Linked DNA regions of Homo sapiens. The protein of the gene in region 1 purifies or fractionates together with the protein of each later gene. This does not show direct contact. Each region holds a gene or a part of one and is shown on either strand. Other genes may lie near its edges.

Region 1 (3,621 bases):
CATGCCCAGCCAATTCTACATTAATATTTTTCAGTGTTCCCCCACTTTTCAGAAGGCTGAGCCTCCATATAAATTCCTTACAGCAGGTATCAGCTGAATCTTGATATTTACATATGATACATATTGCAATTTCTGCAAATCCCCAACTCACAAAAATTTTTGTAGCCGTTCTTAAGCAGGCACAACCGAATCACCTGGAAAAACTTTTAAAATGTAGAGAGCTGAAACCCATCCCTGCAGATTCTGATTTGAAGGGCCAACAGATAGGGATCTGTACTTCAAAAGGCTTTACAAGTGACTCTGATGTATGTCCCCAGTAAAAAATGACTGCTCAGGCTGGGCCCAGTAACTCACACCTATAATTCCACAGCACTTTCCCAGAGGCCGAAGCAGGCAGATTGCTTGAGCTCAGGAGTTCGAGACCATCCTAGCCAACATGGTGAAACCCCGTCTGTACAAAAAATACAAAAATTAGCCGGGTATGGTGGCACACACCTGTAATCCCAGCTACTCTGGAGGCTGAGGCACAAGAATGGCTTGAACCCGACAGTCGAAGGTTGCAGTGAGCCGAGATTATGCCAGCCTGGGCGACAGAGTAAGACTCCATCTCAAAAAATAATAAAAATAAATAAATAAATTTTAAAAGATTTTAAAAAGATAAAAATGACTGCTCAACTGCCCAGGAAATGCAGTAAGGTAAAACTTCACAGAACTCAGTGTACCTAATGATGTGATTGAAAAACCAACCCCACAGCACATGTGATTCAAATTTACATCTCAGCAAAATTATAAACTATTAATTTGACTGCCCTTAAGAATCAGTCAAAACAGTTAAAACAAATATAAAATCTAAAAATACCAAGGGTCTACTGTATGGCAAATACTGAATTATACACATAAATGAACTGAAAACAGATGCAGCTTATTAAAACATCACTTAAAATATCTTTTTTTTTTTTTTTTTTTTTTTGAGAATGAGTCTCGCTCTATCGCCCAGGCTGAAGTGCAGTGGTGCAATCTTGGTTCATTGCAATGTCCGCCTCCCAGGTTCAAGCGATTCTCGCACCTCAGCCTCCTGAGCAGCTGGGATTACAGGTGCTCGCCACCATGCCCCACCAATTTTTTTTATGTATTTTTAGTAGAGACAAGTTTTCACCATGTTGGCCAGGCTGGTCTCGAACTCCTGACCTCAAGTGATCTGCTCGCGTCAGTCTCCCAAAGTGCTGGGATTATAGGCATGAGACACAGTGTCTGGCCTTGCTTTTTCATAGGGATTCTCAGCTGGGCATGGTGGCTCAAGCCTGTAATCCCAGTACTTTGGGAGGCCAAGGTGAGCGGATCATCTGAGGTCAGGAGATCAAGACCAGCTTGGCCAACATGGTGAAACCCTGTCTCTACTAAAAATACACAAAAAAATTAGTGGGGCGTAGTGGCGGGCACCTGTAATCCCAGCTCCCTCAGGAGGCTGAGGCAGGAGAATTGCTTGAACCCAGGAGGCAGAGGTTGCAGTGAGCTGAGATCACACCACTGCACTCCAGCCTGGGCAATGAAGCAAGACTCTATCTCAAAAAAAAAAAAAAAAAAAAAAGAAGGAAAAAAAGGGGAGTCTCGCTCCATCACCCAGGCTGGAGTGCGGTGGTGTGATCTCGGCTCACTGCAACCTCTGCCTCTCAGGTTCAAGTAATTCTCCTGCCTCAGCCTCCCGAGTAGCTGGGATTACAGGTGCCCGCCACCATGCCCCACTAATTTTTTTTGTGTATTTTTAGTAGAGACAGGGTTTCACCACATTGGCCAAGCTGGTCTCGATCTCCTGACCTCAGGTGATCCGCTCACCTCGGCCTCCCAAAGTGCTGGGATTATAGGCTTGAACCACCACGCCTGACCAAAACATAATTTAAATCAGATATGCTTTGCTCTAAGAATATAAGAAATTACAGAAATATACTTTGCATTAAATAAACTGCAATGAAAACTGATTTAGCAGGTGCGAGACAGTTCAACTTCTCCATTCAAGAACGTACTCAAAAAAAAAAAAAAGAAAAATGAAAATAAAAAATAAAAATAAAACAAACAAAAGAACATACTCAGGCCCAGGACAGTGGCTCATGCCTATAACCCCAGCACCTCAGGAGGCTGAGGCAGGTAGACTGCTTGTGTGCAGGAGTTCAAGACCAGCCTGGACAACATATTGAGACTCTGTCTCTACAAAAAAATAAAAAATTAGTCAGGCATGGTAGTGCATGCCTATAGTCCCAGCTACTTGGAAGGCTACGGTGGGAGGATCACTTGAACCCAGGAGGTCGAGGCTGCAGTGAGCCATGATCGTACCCGTGCCACTGCATTCAGCCTGGGTGACAGAGCGAGGGAGAATTACCATGAGGCAAAAGTACAATAATAACTGTTACAGACAAGACCCACAGATGGATGCGAAAATGAGCAGGCAAAAGTTTGAGGAAAAACAGGATTTGCATCTTCTTGAAGTATCTCCCCTAAAATATATATTAACTGTCCAAAAAAAGGTAACTTTAGAGAAACCCTACAGACACAACCATAACCAATTGATGGAGGACAATATCACCAATAAGACATACTGACAATATGAATCCCATGGTAGGAGGCACTGAGAAAGACAGTATCATTTCTGTGGTATTCTTGCCAAAAATACCTAATAAGTCTAACCAAGAGAAAACATCACACAAACCCAAATTGAGGAACATTATACAAAATAACTGATCATTACTCTTTGAGAGTGACAAGGTCACAAAAGATAAGACAGAGACTACTGCAGATGGCAAACAAATAGACAGAAATAGCTAAATGCATCATGGGATGATCCTAGATAAAAATTTTAGAAGAGAAAAAGGACACTGGTGGAAAAAACAGGTAAAAATTAAAATAAGATCTATAGTTTAGTGAATACTGTTGCAGAAATGTTCATCTATCTCTGATAATTTTTCTATGGTTATGTAAGATGTTAACAACAGGAGAAGCAGGCAAGTGATACGAGAACTCTTTGTACTATGTTTGCAACTTTTTTTTTTTTTTTCCGGGACAGGGTCTCATTCTGTCGCCCAGGCTGGAGTGCAGTAACACGATCTCGGCTCACTGCAACATCTGCCTCCCAGGTTCAAGCAATTCTCCTGCCTCAACCTCCCTAGGAGCTGGTATTAAAGATGCCTGGCTAATTTTTTATTTTTAGTAGAGACAGGGTTTCAACATGTTGGCCAAGCTCAAAAAGTTTATACAAAATGAGAGAAAAAAAGACCACGAGAGAGAATTAAAAGCTCACCAACATGAATGCAAAATTATGCAGAATGAAAGAAGCCTATGGAAAAGAAAGTGCATTTATATTTATATGTGGTTTTTGTTTATGTAAAGTTCTTAACATGTAAACTAATCTACAGTAACAAAAAGCAGGTAAGTGGCCAAGCGCAGTGGCTCACACCTGTAATCCCAACATTTTGGGAGGTCGAGGCAGGCAGATCATGAGGTCAGGAGTTCAAGACCAGCCTGGCCAACATAGTGAAACTCCGTCTCTACTAAAAATACAAAAATTAGTCGGGCATGGTGGCACATACCTATAGTCCCAGCTACTCAGGAGGCTGAGGCAGGAGAATCACT
Region 2 (3,621 bases), on another chromosome or scaffold:
GAAGAACAGAGGAATGGAGGGTGAGAAGTGGTCCCAGTGGAAGATTATGGCTCCCACATCTATATCAAGATCATCCAGGAAAAATACATCTGGGGAACTCAGCAACGCTCACTATATTTCAGACTGACACACTCTGATTTTCTTTACATTTCAAAGAGGCCAGGCATGGTGGCTCATGCCTGTAATCCCAGCTACTCTGGAGGCTGAGGCAGGAAAATTGCTTGAACCCAGGAGGCGGAGGTTGAAGTGAGCTGAGATTGCGCCACTGCACTCCAGCCTGGCAACACAACGAAACTCCATCTCAGAAAAAACAAAAAGAAAGAAAGAAAGAGAGAAAGAGAGAAGGAGAGAAGGAGAGAAGAAGGAGAGAAAGAAAGAAAGAAAGAAAGAAAGAAAGAAAGAAAGAAAGAAAGAAAGAAAGAAGGAAGGAAAGAAAGAAAGACAATCATCTATCCACCCTCCTCTTAAACTTTCTAAAGTAGGGGGATGCATACCCTGGATAATATCTTTCCTCCTCCTGGCATGAGGCAACCAATAAAAGTTTTGTCTGTCAGTGCAGATTTCAGCACGAAATGGAACAAGCAGAGATAGAGGGAGACAGTAAGAATTCCACAGCTGACCCTACCCCTTACCACCTTTATCTTTGACCATACTCTGTGTTGGGGCCCTGTGGCCTATAGAAGCAGATGAGGGACAGAGTGATGATCTAGGCTTCTTTATCATAAGCAGAAGACACCAGATCCTACTCTTTAGGAAACTAGCTGATAGCCAAGGACATCTGAGATCCATACTCAGGAATCACAGATCACATGAGGTTATTGCTGTTGATGGTATCCAGAGTCTAATATTTGGGGATAAGCAACTATCACCAAATATCCTACAGCCAGAATAAGCAGTTTGTAAAAAAGAAAGGCAAGAGTTTTCTACGGTGGCGGTTCACCTGCTGATCCAGAGGCTCTGTCGTTTTTTTCTGCCCCTCCAGAGAGCTGTCAGCCAGCACTTTTTGTTTGTTGCTTTTCAGACAAGGGTCAGGTTCTTTGCTTTCATTCTGGGAAAATTCGTTGAAGTGTAGTACCTGCATGATAACGGGATGGGGTCTTTCAGATAATATGAACAGAGGGAAGCCTGAATAACTTCAGAAACATTTCATAATGAGACAATGGCAATGATTACATAGTCAAACAAAACAATCAACAACAGTTTAAAGGAAAGTGGGTGCTTCTGTACTTGGGTTGGGAGGTGGAATCGAGGAGAAGAACCAACCGCTACCCTGGGAGAGCATTTATGAATAAATATAACCAAACTAAAAGAACATAGAGGTATCCACAAGCTAAATGTAACTATGGAGCATTTCATAGATACCCAATCTGAATTGACTGTAAGTGCAAAATACACACCAGATCTTGAATATAGTATAAAAAAATAAATAAATAAAATAGCTCATTAAAATTCTTATATTGATGATATGTGGATATGATATTTTGCATATACTAGGTTAAAAAATTATTATTAAAATTAGTCCCACCTGTTTCTTTTTACTTTTGCAATACAGTTACTAAAAAATTTTAAATTACTATGTGGTTCTCATTATGTTTGTGTCAGACAGTGCTGATCTAGAGTTTCACATGAATCAAGGGAGTGAGGACAGCAAAAGACAAGTTATCCAGAGCCTGGTAGAAAGGTAGGAGACAGGCGTCATATCCTGCACTACTCAGACCCATTTGGTCAGCAGGTGCCCTCAACTGCCTAAGAAAGAACATCTGAATTCTGCCCTGCAAGATGCAAACCACACTCTAAAGCTAAGTTTTGCTAATGGAATAAGAAAATAATACACCAAATCTTAGTAGATGAATAAAGCAGAATGACCCCAGAAACACATTCTGTCTTAATCCATAAATTCTACTGCTCCATATTCAGGGGAAACAGCCTGAGTTGTGCATAACCCCCGCACTATGTGCTACATCCAAGGAAGTATAAGGCCAACCATGGGAACTTGTAGTTTATTTGGGGATTTGTTCTTATTACCTTCATTTATTTATTCTAGAAATGTTTATTAGGTGCCTACAAAAGTATCCCTTATGGTCTGGAGGTCAGGATGCAGCACTAGATTAGGAGGTCAAAGTAGGCCCCGTATAGGAGATAAACACTGATCAAAGTCTTGAAGAAGAAAGTGAGCTGAGGTCAGTTACCAGGGGAAAGAGCCATCAGGCAAAGGGACCGAGAGCAAAGGCCCCAAGATAGGATGGGCATGACTTACCCAAGGAAGCCAGGAGGCCAATGTGACAGGTACAGTGAGGAGGGATGAAAGTGAGAGATGGAGTCACAGGGCTTATCTGGGATTCAGATCTCCAGATCCTTGTGGGCCATTGTAAGGACTTGAACTGCTATCATGAGTGAAATAAGAAATCCAGGTTTTTGAACAGATGAGAAATAGAATCTGGCTCAGGTTTTAAAAGGGTCTCTTGGACTGCTGTGCAAAGGATAGATTGCCAGTGAGAGCAGGAAAGCCCATCAGGAAGTTGCTGCAGTATCCAGGTGAGAAAAGATGGTTGTGGTTCAGACCTCAAGGAGACTGGGAGAAGTGCCTGGATTATGGATATCTTTCAAAAGAAAAGCCAACAGAATTTTCTAACAAATGTGGTATAAAGTGAGAGAGAAAGAGTCCAGGAGGACACCAAGCTCTCTAGCCACTGGAACCATATATGGTACTTAATGAATATTTATTTAATGAAATGAGTGAGACAGAAGACATATACACATACTAAAAATCGCTAGCAATATTGGTATTAGCAATCATAGAGTAAAAGAGTGACAGACATGCATACAGAGATAAAGATAGAGATGAATGAGAAAAGCTGCCAGACATGAAGTTGAGGAGCACCCTAAAGAAGGTACAAGTTTAAGTGAGACTTTAAGAATGGTAGGATCGAAGAGGAAGTAAGATGGAGAAAATACAAATAAAGACTCAGAGACAGGGATGGGTTCTGACCAAGCCCAGGGTGCAATAAGCCCCTTGGCTTGCCTAAGTGGGATTAGGGTCTGACTTTGAGTGTGGACCCAGAGTTTAGGACCCTGTGTAGCACCCTAGTGGACACGTACCTCATCAATCTGATGTGCACTGTCACTTCTAGCACCCAAGCGTACCATACCAAGGGCAGCTGAGAGGCTCAGGGGAGAGAAAAATATGTTTTTATGACGATCATCTTTGCCTATCTCTTGAAAAAGATCAAAGCAAAATTTGGTGTTTGCTGTAACAAGAGAGTCCATTGTAAAACTTATAACGATCTAAAACCAAAAAAAAAGGAGAAAGAGAAAATGGTGATTGGAAGAAAATAAGTGAACAAACAATTTTATTTTACATACCTGAAATACAATCATGCACAATTATTCAGTATGCTATTAAGAACTGGAAAACTAAGGTCATTATCATCCCTGTATATAAATATTGGTGTTGATATTGATAGACAGAGATCTATTTTCATTTAGTAGTGTGAATTCGTTTCCTGGGGCTGCCATAAGAAATTACCACAGACTGAGTGGTTTAAATAGCAGGAGTTTATTCTCCCATGGTTCTGGGGGACAAACGTCCAAAATCAAGATATCAGCAGATTTGGTTCATTT
Region 3 (3,621 bases), on another chromosome or scaffold:
CCAAGAACTGCCCACAGCCTGCCTGATTTTCCCAGTACTCATGTCATGTGACTTCCATTAGCCTTGGACACTAATTGACAAGTCTGTGGGTCACTGAGTTATTCATCCACAAGGCCATTTCAAACCTCTCTTCAAACTCATATTCACCCTTTCTGCAGACAATCTCATTTATTCTCTACCAAAAGGTGAAGGCATAGCAAAATGGCCTCTTTTATTTTGAAGCTCTACCATTTACATTGTTCCTTCTAGACTACCTTCAAACATGCACAAGTAAAAAAAGAACCTTTATTTGCCCTTGTTGCTTCTGTCAGCTGCTATCTTAAGAGTCAGCTTTGGCTCATTTCTCCCCTTCAATCCCTTAGAACCAGTAAAGTCCCAATAATGCTAACCTTGAAAAATTTTTTTGATTCCCATCATCACATTCATAGTGCAGGTTCTTTTTCTTTCTTTCTTACTTTTGAGGCAGAGTCTCACTCTGTCGCCCAGGCTGGAGTGCAGTGGTGTGATTTCTGCTTACTGCAACCTCCGCCTCCTAGGTTGAAGTGATTCTCCTGCCTCAGCCTCCCAAGTAGCTGGGATTACAGATGCCTGCCACCATGCCCAGCTAATTTTTGTATTTTTAGCAGAGATGGGGTTTCATCATGTTGGCCAGGCTAGTCTCAAACTCCTGACCTCAGGGGATCTGTCTGCCTTGGCCTCCCAAAGTGCTCGGATTATAGGCATGAGCCACCACGCTCATAGTGCAGATTCTTAAATAAATAAGATTCTTGTAACTAGTTACATCTATCTGATGCACCTTATCCACAAACGTCAGATTAGTAGTACAATGTTGAACCTTCTGTTAATCAAAGATTTGCAGTAATGGAAACTAGTCAACAAGGTATTAAAAACCTGATCATTGGTTCTGCTTTTCCTAACTGATTTTGTTTCCCACTCCATTTCCCCATAACATTTTTTTTTTGTCTGTTTTTTTTGAGACAAAGTCTCGCTCTGTTGCCCAGGTTGGAGTGCACCGACATGATCATAGCTCACTGCAGCTGTGACCTCCCAGGCTCAGGTAATCCTCTAACCTCAGCCTCCTGAGAAGTTGGGACTACAGGTACACGACACCATGCCAGTTAATTTTTGTATTTTCGGTAGAGATTTTGTTTATGTTGCCCAGGCTGAACCATACTTTATACTTCTACTTCTATTTTATAGTTTGTGGTATTCTTCTGACCTTCATTTTAACTCTGTCCTTCCTTTCAGGCTGGTTCAAACTACACTGAGCCTTCCCTGGTCACTAAAACTTGTGGCCCTTCCTATCCTACACCTCATTTACTATGGGCTCTCCATCTTTTGGTCCTTAAGGTTCTTCTCAGGTTCTTCTCAGCATGTCCTTTGTGGTGCAACAGCATTAGGCATTTCTCCAAAAGAACCTAGGCATAGTGCTATATATAGTAGGTACTAATACTTGTTGAATTGAATTGAATTTCTGGGCCTGTTTTCTTATCTGTAAAATAAAAGGTATAGACTAGACAGAACAAAGATCTCTTTTGGTTCTAACTGTTATTACCCTATGAAAATACTCAAGGAATAATCAAAACAATTATTTTTTTCTAATATGATTTTGCAAAAGCTATGCTTGTGATAGATACCACAAATCAAACACTAAGTATGGTAAAAACCATAAACATCTAATCCAACTTAAATCAACAACAGCACCTTACTACATAAACAAAATGCAGACTGGGCATGGTGGCTCATGCCTATAATCCTTTGGGAGGCCAATGCGGACGGATCACTTGAGGTAAGGAGTTTGAGACCAGCCTGGCCAACACAGCGAAACCCTGTCTCTAGTAAAAATACAAAAATCAGCCGGGCATGGTGGCACACACCTGTAATCCCACCCGCACTCCAGCCTGGGTGACAGAGAGAGACTCCATCTCAAAAACAAAAACAAAAACAGGCTGGGCGTGGTGGTTCACACCTATAATCCCAGCACTTTGAGAAGCCTACATGGGCAGATCATGAGGTCAAGAATTCAAGACCAGCCTGACCAACATGGTGAAACCCTGTCTCTACCAAAAATACAAAAATTAGCCAGGTGTGGTGTTGTGCGCCTATAATCCCAGTTACTCAGGAGGCTGAGGCAGGAGAATCACTTGAACCCGGGAGGCGGAGGTTGTAGTGAGCCAAGATCGTGCCACTGCACTCCAGCCTGGGCAACAGAGCAAGACTCTGTCTCAAAACAAAAAACCAAAAAACCGAACACATAAAACAACAACAACAAAACAGTGGGAAACATAAAGAGAAATCAGATACTCCCTGCACTTGGTGACTTATATATTAGGTGAAGAAACAGGTCAAAGCAGAATTAAATGCTACATATAGGTAGGAGTGATGTGTTCCTCTATTACCTGTTTTTCCAAAGCAGCCTTTCCTACTTCTTTTGTGCATGATGTGAGTGTTTCATTCAAGCACTGTAAGCTAAAGAAAAAAAAAGAAGAAATGAAACTTTATCCTAAGCTCAAGTGAAGACTTCAATAGCAGTTCCATAGGTATACCTTGCCAGTTCAAGCCGATCACAAAGTTTTTCCACTTCTTCCATCATTTTAACCCGCTCTGCCTCATTATCAGAAAAATGATTCCAGGTCTAAAAGCACAAACACAAAAATAGTATCTACACTCAAAAATACATCCATCAACATAATTACAAAGCTGTAATCCCAGCTACTCGGGAGGCTGAGGCAGGAGAATCGCTTGAACCTGGAGGCGGAAATTGCAGCAAACTGAGATCACGCCACTGCACTCCAGCCTGGACAACAGAGCAAGACTCCATCTCAAAAAAACAGACAATGACAACTGAACAGGTATAATTTTATCTCAGTGTAAATGTTTTTAACTTTTTCTTTTCTTTGAGACGGAGTCTCACTGTCGCCCAGGCTGGAGTCCAGTGGCACGAAATCGGCTCACTGCAACCTCCACCTCCCGGGTTCAAGCTATTCTTCTGCCTCAGTCTCCTGAGTAGCTGGAATTACAGGCGCCTGCCACCACACCTGGCTAATTTTTTCTATATTTAGTAGAGACGGGGTTTCACCATTTTGGCCAGGCTGGTCTTGAACTCCTGACCTTGTGATCCACCCGCCTCAGCCTCCCAAAGTGCTGGTTACAGGTGTGAGCCACCGCGCCCGGCTGTTTTTAACTTTTTCTAAATTTCAGGTGTACATATTTCAGTTTTCAACCCTGATAGTTTTTTTCTAAACATAATCATCTTACCATTATCAAACCAAAAAACAAGTTAATATTCTAAAACTGTCCCAGCACTTTGGGAGGCCGAGGCAGGCGGATCGTGAGGTCAGGAGATCGAGACCATCCTGGCTAACACAGTGAAACCCCGTCTCTACTAAAAATCCAAAAAATTAGCCGGGCGTGGTCCCAGCTACTCGGGAGGCTGAGGCAGGAGCATGGCGTGAACCCAGGAGGCGGAGCTTGCAGTGAGCGGAGATTGCGCCACTGTACTCCAGCCTGGGCGACAGAGCAAGACTCTGTCACAAAATATATATATATACACATATATATATATATATATATATTCTGAAACTGTGTCTATATTCATATCTTCAGTTATCTCAGCATGTC
Region 4 (4,095 bases), on another chromosome or scaffold:
GTTCTCTTCAACTATAATTAGGATTTAACAAGGTCAGAAATCTCTACTTAGCTCGATATCATAAAATATTTTGAGAAAGTACTTTATGTTTGTATCAGATTGTTTTACCACTTGAAAAAGAAGTGATACCTGTGAATATTCCATCTCAATGAACAAACCTTGGAAACAAATTGTCCATAAAGTCAAGATTTATTGTCACATAATAATGTAATACTTAATGTAAGTTTTAGAATTGTTCCCATATTCAAAGAATTCGTAACTTCCACGACCCAACTATGTTTGTCAAAGTTTACAACCACAACCATAACAAACCAAAACTACATCCTAGCCAGGAATATTCTTATCTGCCAAGGTCTTTACCAAGAGAACTAAGATTTAAATTTTACCTCCTTTCCCTTCCCCTTCCCTTCTTTGGAAATACCAAATATCAGCAAACCAACTAAATGGGAGATAAAGAGCTGAGAAGCAAAGGATAAAAAAACAGTTAATCAAGATAAACTTATCAATTTTTGATTGCTGCGGATGAATTCAATTAGTAACCAAATAGTCAGTTTCTGTTTAAGATTCCGTCCATCAACTCTTGGGATCCAAGCAGATAAACAGACTAAATTCTGAAGTCAAATCCATTGGATCCGTTACTGCCTGAGTGACCTCATGCCAGTTCTTTAAACTCAATACCCCTGTTACCTGTAAAATGGTATCTCCTTCACTAAGTTACTGTGAAAATTAAGTGAGATTATGCAAACAAAAAGTTATCAGTAAATCACAATGCAAATTCTGCTGTTGATGCTACTAAAAGTAGCAACAGTAATATAATTTCGTTCATCCCTTCCTACTATCCCTAGCAGGAAAAAGACAAGGGAAAACCAGAAGAAGGAGAGATGTGACTAACCACGGCAAACTCTCTGGAAGTATATTTAAAAACTGTTGAAGAGATGAAACTGGAAAGGCTTTTACTTCTCATTTTATTTAAATTTTCATCTCACTTTATTAAAATTTTCAAAAGAGGTGGAATTACACATAATTTTCATTGTTCATGTTTATCAGTATTTTTCCCATAAAACATTTAAATTAAACATAATTTTTGTTTCTCAGATTCCTTCAATTGAAACTGTATATATACATAAGGTACACTGAACAGAAAATACAAAGGAAAATCATACTTTTCTGTTTTCCAGTTTAGTACAATGTGAATATACGACCTTTAAAAAAAGTTTTTAAAATTACTAAATATAGTGAGCAAGCATGCATGACTTATACTTCAGAGACATCTGAAAGGCCCAATCCACAAGGTCCAGCACCTACTATAATTTGAAGTGCAACTCTTACTCTGGTCAATTTTATTCTAGTAAAAGAGCTAATACACAAAAAAAGCAAAACTCCCCTAAGAGATTGTCAAGTGATCTGAAAAAAGAAGAACCCTGCTCAGGGACTATTAATGGTCCACACACCTCTCAGGATACTTTTCTACTTCGGGATATCTTTCAGTTTTTTCCTCTATAATATAAGCATAAATATATTTTAAGGTGTAAAACAGAGAAATCCTTTTGCATCTTTGGAAAAAGTCCTTCCCCTGACTGCTAATTATCTCTGAGGAAAACAGAAGCAATTATAGGTCTAGTGACAGGATCTAAAGGCAAAATGGGAAATCAAATGGACAAAATAAATGAAGTTTACGTGCTTTCACTTAAAATTGGCATTTTAATCAAAACCGATTTAAAAAGTCTAAAAATAAGCCTAACTCCAGAAAGCTGGGAAAGGGGAAGAGAGAAGGAAATATTTACCTGAGGCATCTCCAACTTTAAAATCACTGTCATCTGAACTATCATAATCAAGAGCTTCCAGCAGAGAAGCTGCCAAAGGCTTCACCTGCCTCCTCTTGGAGCTGCGATCCACTGTGAAGAGAAAAAAATTACATTGTCATTCATAATCACACCAAACACAGGGGAGAGTTGTGGTGCTAAGAGAACATAAAGATGACCTCGCACAAGGAATTTTTGTCTAACTGAGTTCTCAGCAAAAGGGGTCAGGAGAAGGTTGGGGTGCAGAAGCAGGGTGGGGAGGGCTGGACAGCTCCACGGGCAGTTTCAAAGGCAGCTCCAGCCCTGATGCTGCCAACGCCAACTCAGACCAGCTAAAATCGAAGCTGACCCTCTTGCTCATCTTTTCGAGATGTTTCTGCACCTTCCTCGTAATCCCCCACTTAGACATCGTAACAGTCAATAAAAACGGCAAAAATCAGGGAATAAAACAAGCGGGCTTCATTCCCGCGGACCATGGAGGGCGAGGGTCCACCAATCCTGCTTTCCCGCAGGACTCTCCCACCCCTGCCCTGCTCCCACCGGCCCTGACTTCTAGAATGGCTGAAATGGACCTCTCGCCGCAGAGGCCTCGGATACACTTACTAAGGAATCCGTGAGGTGGTCGTTTGGAGAAGACTTAGGGAGAGGCTGCAGGAGCCCAGGCAGCGCCGAGGTCGGGGACTGGGGCCGCGAAGACAAGTCCGAAAGATGCTATTTAAAACCGGCGCGCAGCCAGCCGGACAGGGGCGCTCCCAAGAGTAGCCCCGCGGTCCCCTAACCCCCCGCCCCCCCGGCCTCGCCTGGCCCTGGCCGCTCGAGCCCCTTCCCACAGCGCTCCCTGGCCGGAGAAGACCTCCGGCCCAGGCAGCGCAGTCAACCCGGCGGCCCCGGGGAGTTAATTTCTCCCGTTAAAACTAGAAGAAAAAAAATTAAAGAAAGAAAAACTTTATTAGCCTGGACCAGAAGCAACGAAAGACCAGAAATTGCACAGCGCGAGGGCGGCTGCCTCAGACAATAGGGAAAGCAGCGACCCGGATACAGCTCTGAAAAGGAAGTGAAAACACGAGGCTGAGCGCAGCCCTGAGAGCAGCAGGAATTGAGGGCGCATGCGCAGGACTCGCCCCCGCGCACCCTTCCCGAGCAGGAGCCGAACAGAGCCGAGTGAAAGCCCAGGGAGCCGCGCGGAGGCGAGCGGAGCCGAGTAGTGCCAAGGCGGAGCAGAGATCCCCGCCAAACCCTGTGCAATTCCGCCCATAAACCCCAAAGGCTCCGCCCTCTCCGCGCCTAATTCACCTCCTGAGTCCAAATCCCTGGGAGGCCAGTTTTTGTTTCTGATCTGTTTTTTAAGGATTTACTGAGTAAACGTTCCACAAAGGGATGTTTGCTACCTTAAGCCACTACCAATATTTAAATGATATTGTCACCGGTAGAGGATCGTGACTGCAAGTTGTCCAGGTTCTTGGCGTTTTTAACAAAGAATTGGACAAAACGCCCAGCAAAGCAAAGAAAGAATGAAGCAACAAAACAACAAAAGCAGGGACTTATTGAAAATTAAAGCACGCTCTGTACGGAAGCGACCTGAGCAGCGGCTCAAGGGCCCGGATACAGAATCTTGAGTCCAAATACCCTCTAGAAGCTTCCTATTGGCCACCTAATGCTCACCTCATGTAAATGAAGTAACGCGCAATCAGTCTGATTGGTTGCAGAAAGCAGCCAACCAGAGGCTGAAGTGAAGTTACAAAGGTCATGCTCCTGTGCAAACATTGGTGCAAAAAGCAATCAATCAGAGGCTAGGGTGAAGTTACAAAGTGGTATACCTCTATGCAAAGGAAGATTTCCCCTGCAATCAGTTTGATTTCTTGCAGATGGTGAAGTTACAAAGTGATACTTCTATGCAAAGGAAGACTCTCCTGCAATCAGTCTGATTTGCTGCCCACAGCCAATTTCCCATCTGCCCTGCAGAAAAAGTGGGGGTTTGCAAAGGGAGTAGCCTCTGGTCCTTTTGTTACTTAGGCATGGAAAGTTAGGGGTTTCCTTTCAATTTAGTTCTTAGGAAGTCGGAGTGACACATCCTTAGGTTCCCTGCCTCCACACCCTATTCTCCTGCCTCACTCTCACCCAAACTATCATTGCCATGTGACCTCTCAAACTTTTCTATTGTGCTATAGAAACTTCTATTCCAAAATGTATAACCTACTTAGTAAACATTTTTCCTTTTCAATGCCCATTCTTTTTACCTCCTCATCTGAAATAGAAACAGTTACCCTGCAGCCCTCTCAAATGAAAACCACTC

The links. The genes of interacting proteins can lie anywhere in the genome.
Region 2: the proteins of DRG1 (region 1) and SERPINB12 purify together in Homo sapiens (affinity purification with mass spectrometry; one large-scale study listed by BioGRID and IntAct). This does not show direct contact.
Region 3: the proteins of DRG1 (region 1) and DNAJC2 purify together in Homo sapiens (affinity purification with mass spectrometry; 2 studies listed by BioGRID and IntAct, with this or other methods). This does not show direct contact.
Region 4: the proteins of DRG1 (region 1) and PHF14 purify together in Homo sapiens (affinity purification with mass spectrometry; one large-scale study listed by BioGRID and IntAct). This does not show direct contact.

Annotation. Positions count from the first base shown.
Region 1 is NC_000022.11:31,406,102-31,409,722, reverse strand, and holds part of DRG1 (developmentally-regulated GTP-binding protein 1), read right to left. Parts: intron 1-3,621. UniProt on the Homo sapiens protein: Catalyzes the conversion of GTP to GDP through hydrolysis of the gamma-phosphate bond in GTP. Appears to have an intrinsic GTPase activity that is stimulated by ZC3H15/DFRP1 binding likely by increasing the affinity for the potassium ions.
Region 2 is NC_000018.10:63,555,806-63,559,426, reverse strand, and holds part of SERPINB12 (serpin B12), read right to left. Parts: intron 3,286-3,621; coding exon of another isoform or gene 3,268-3,285; coding exon 3,100-3,267; intron 1,076-3,099; coding exon 941-1,075; intron 1-940. UniProt on the Homo sapiens protein: Inhibits trypsin and plasmin, but not thrombin, coagulation factor Xa, or urokinase-type plasminogen activator. May play a role in cell differentiation.
Region 3 is NC_000007.14:103,317,210-103,320,830, forward strand, and holds part of DNAJC2 (dnaJ homolog subfamily C member 2), read right to left. Parts: intron 2,636-3,621; coding exon 2,547-2,635; intron 2,470-2,546; coding exon 2,400-2,469; intron 1-2,399. UniProt on the Homo sapiens protein: Acts both as a chaperone in the cytosol and as a chromatin regulator in the nucleus.
Region 4 is NC_000007.14:10,972,635-10,976,729, reverse strand, and holds the start of PHF14 (PHD finger protein 14), read right to left. Parts: upstream 2,859-4,095; 5' UTR 2,407-2,858; coding exon 2,406-2,406; intron 1,896-2,405; coding exon 1,785-1,895; intron 1-1,784. UniProt on the Homo sapiens protein: Histone-binding protein. Binds preferentially to unmodified histone H3 but can also bind to a lesser extent to histone H3 trimethylated at 'Lys-9' (H3K9me3) as well as to histone H3 monomethylated at 'Lys-27' (H3K27ac) and trimethylated at 'Lys-27' (H3K27me3).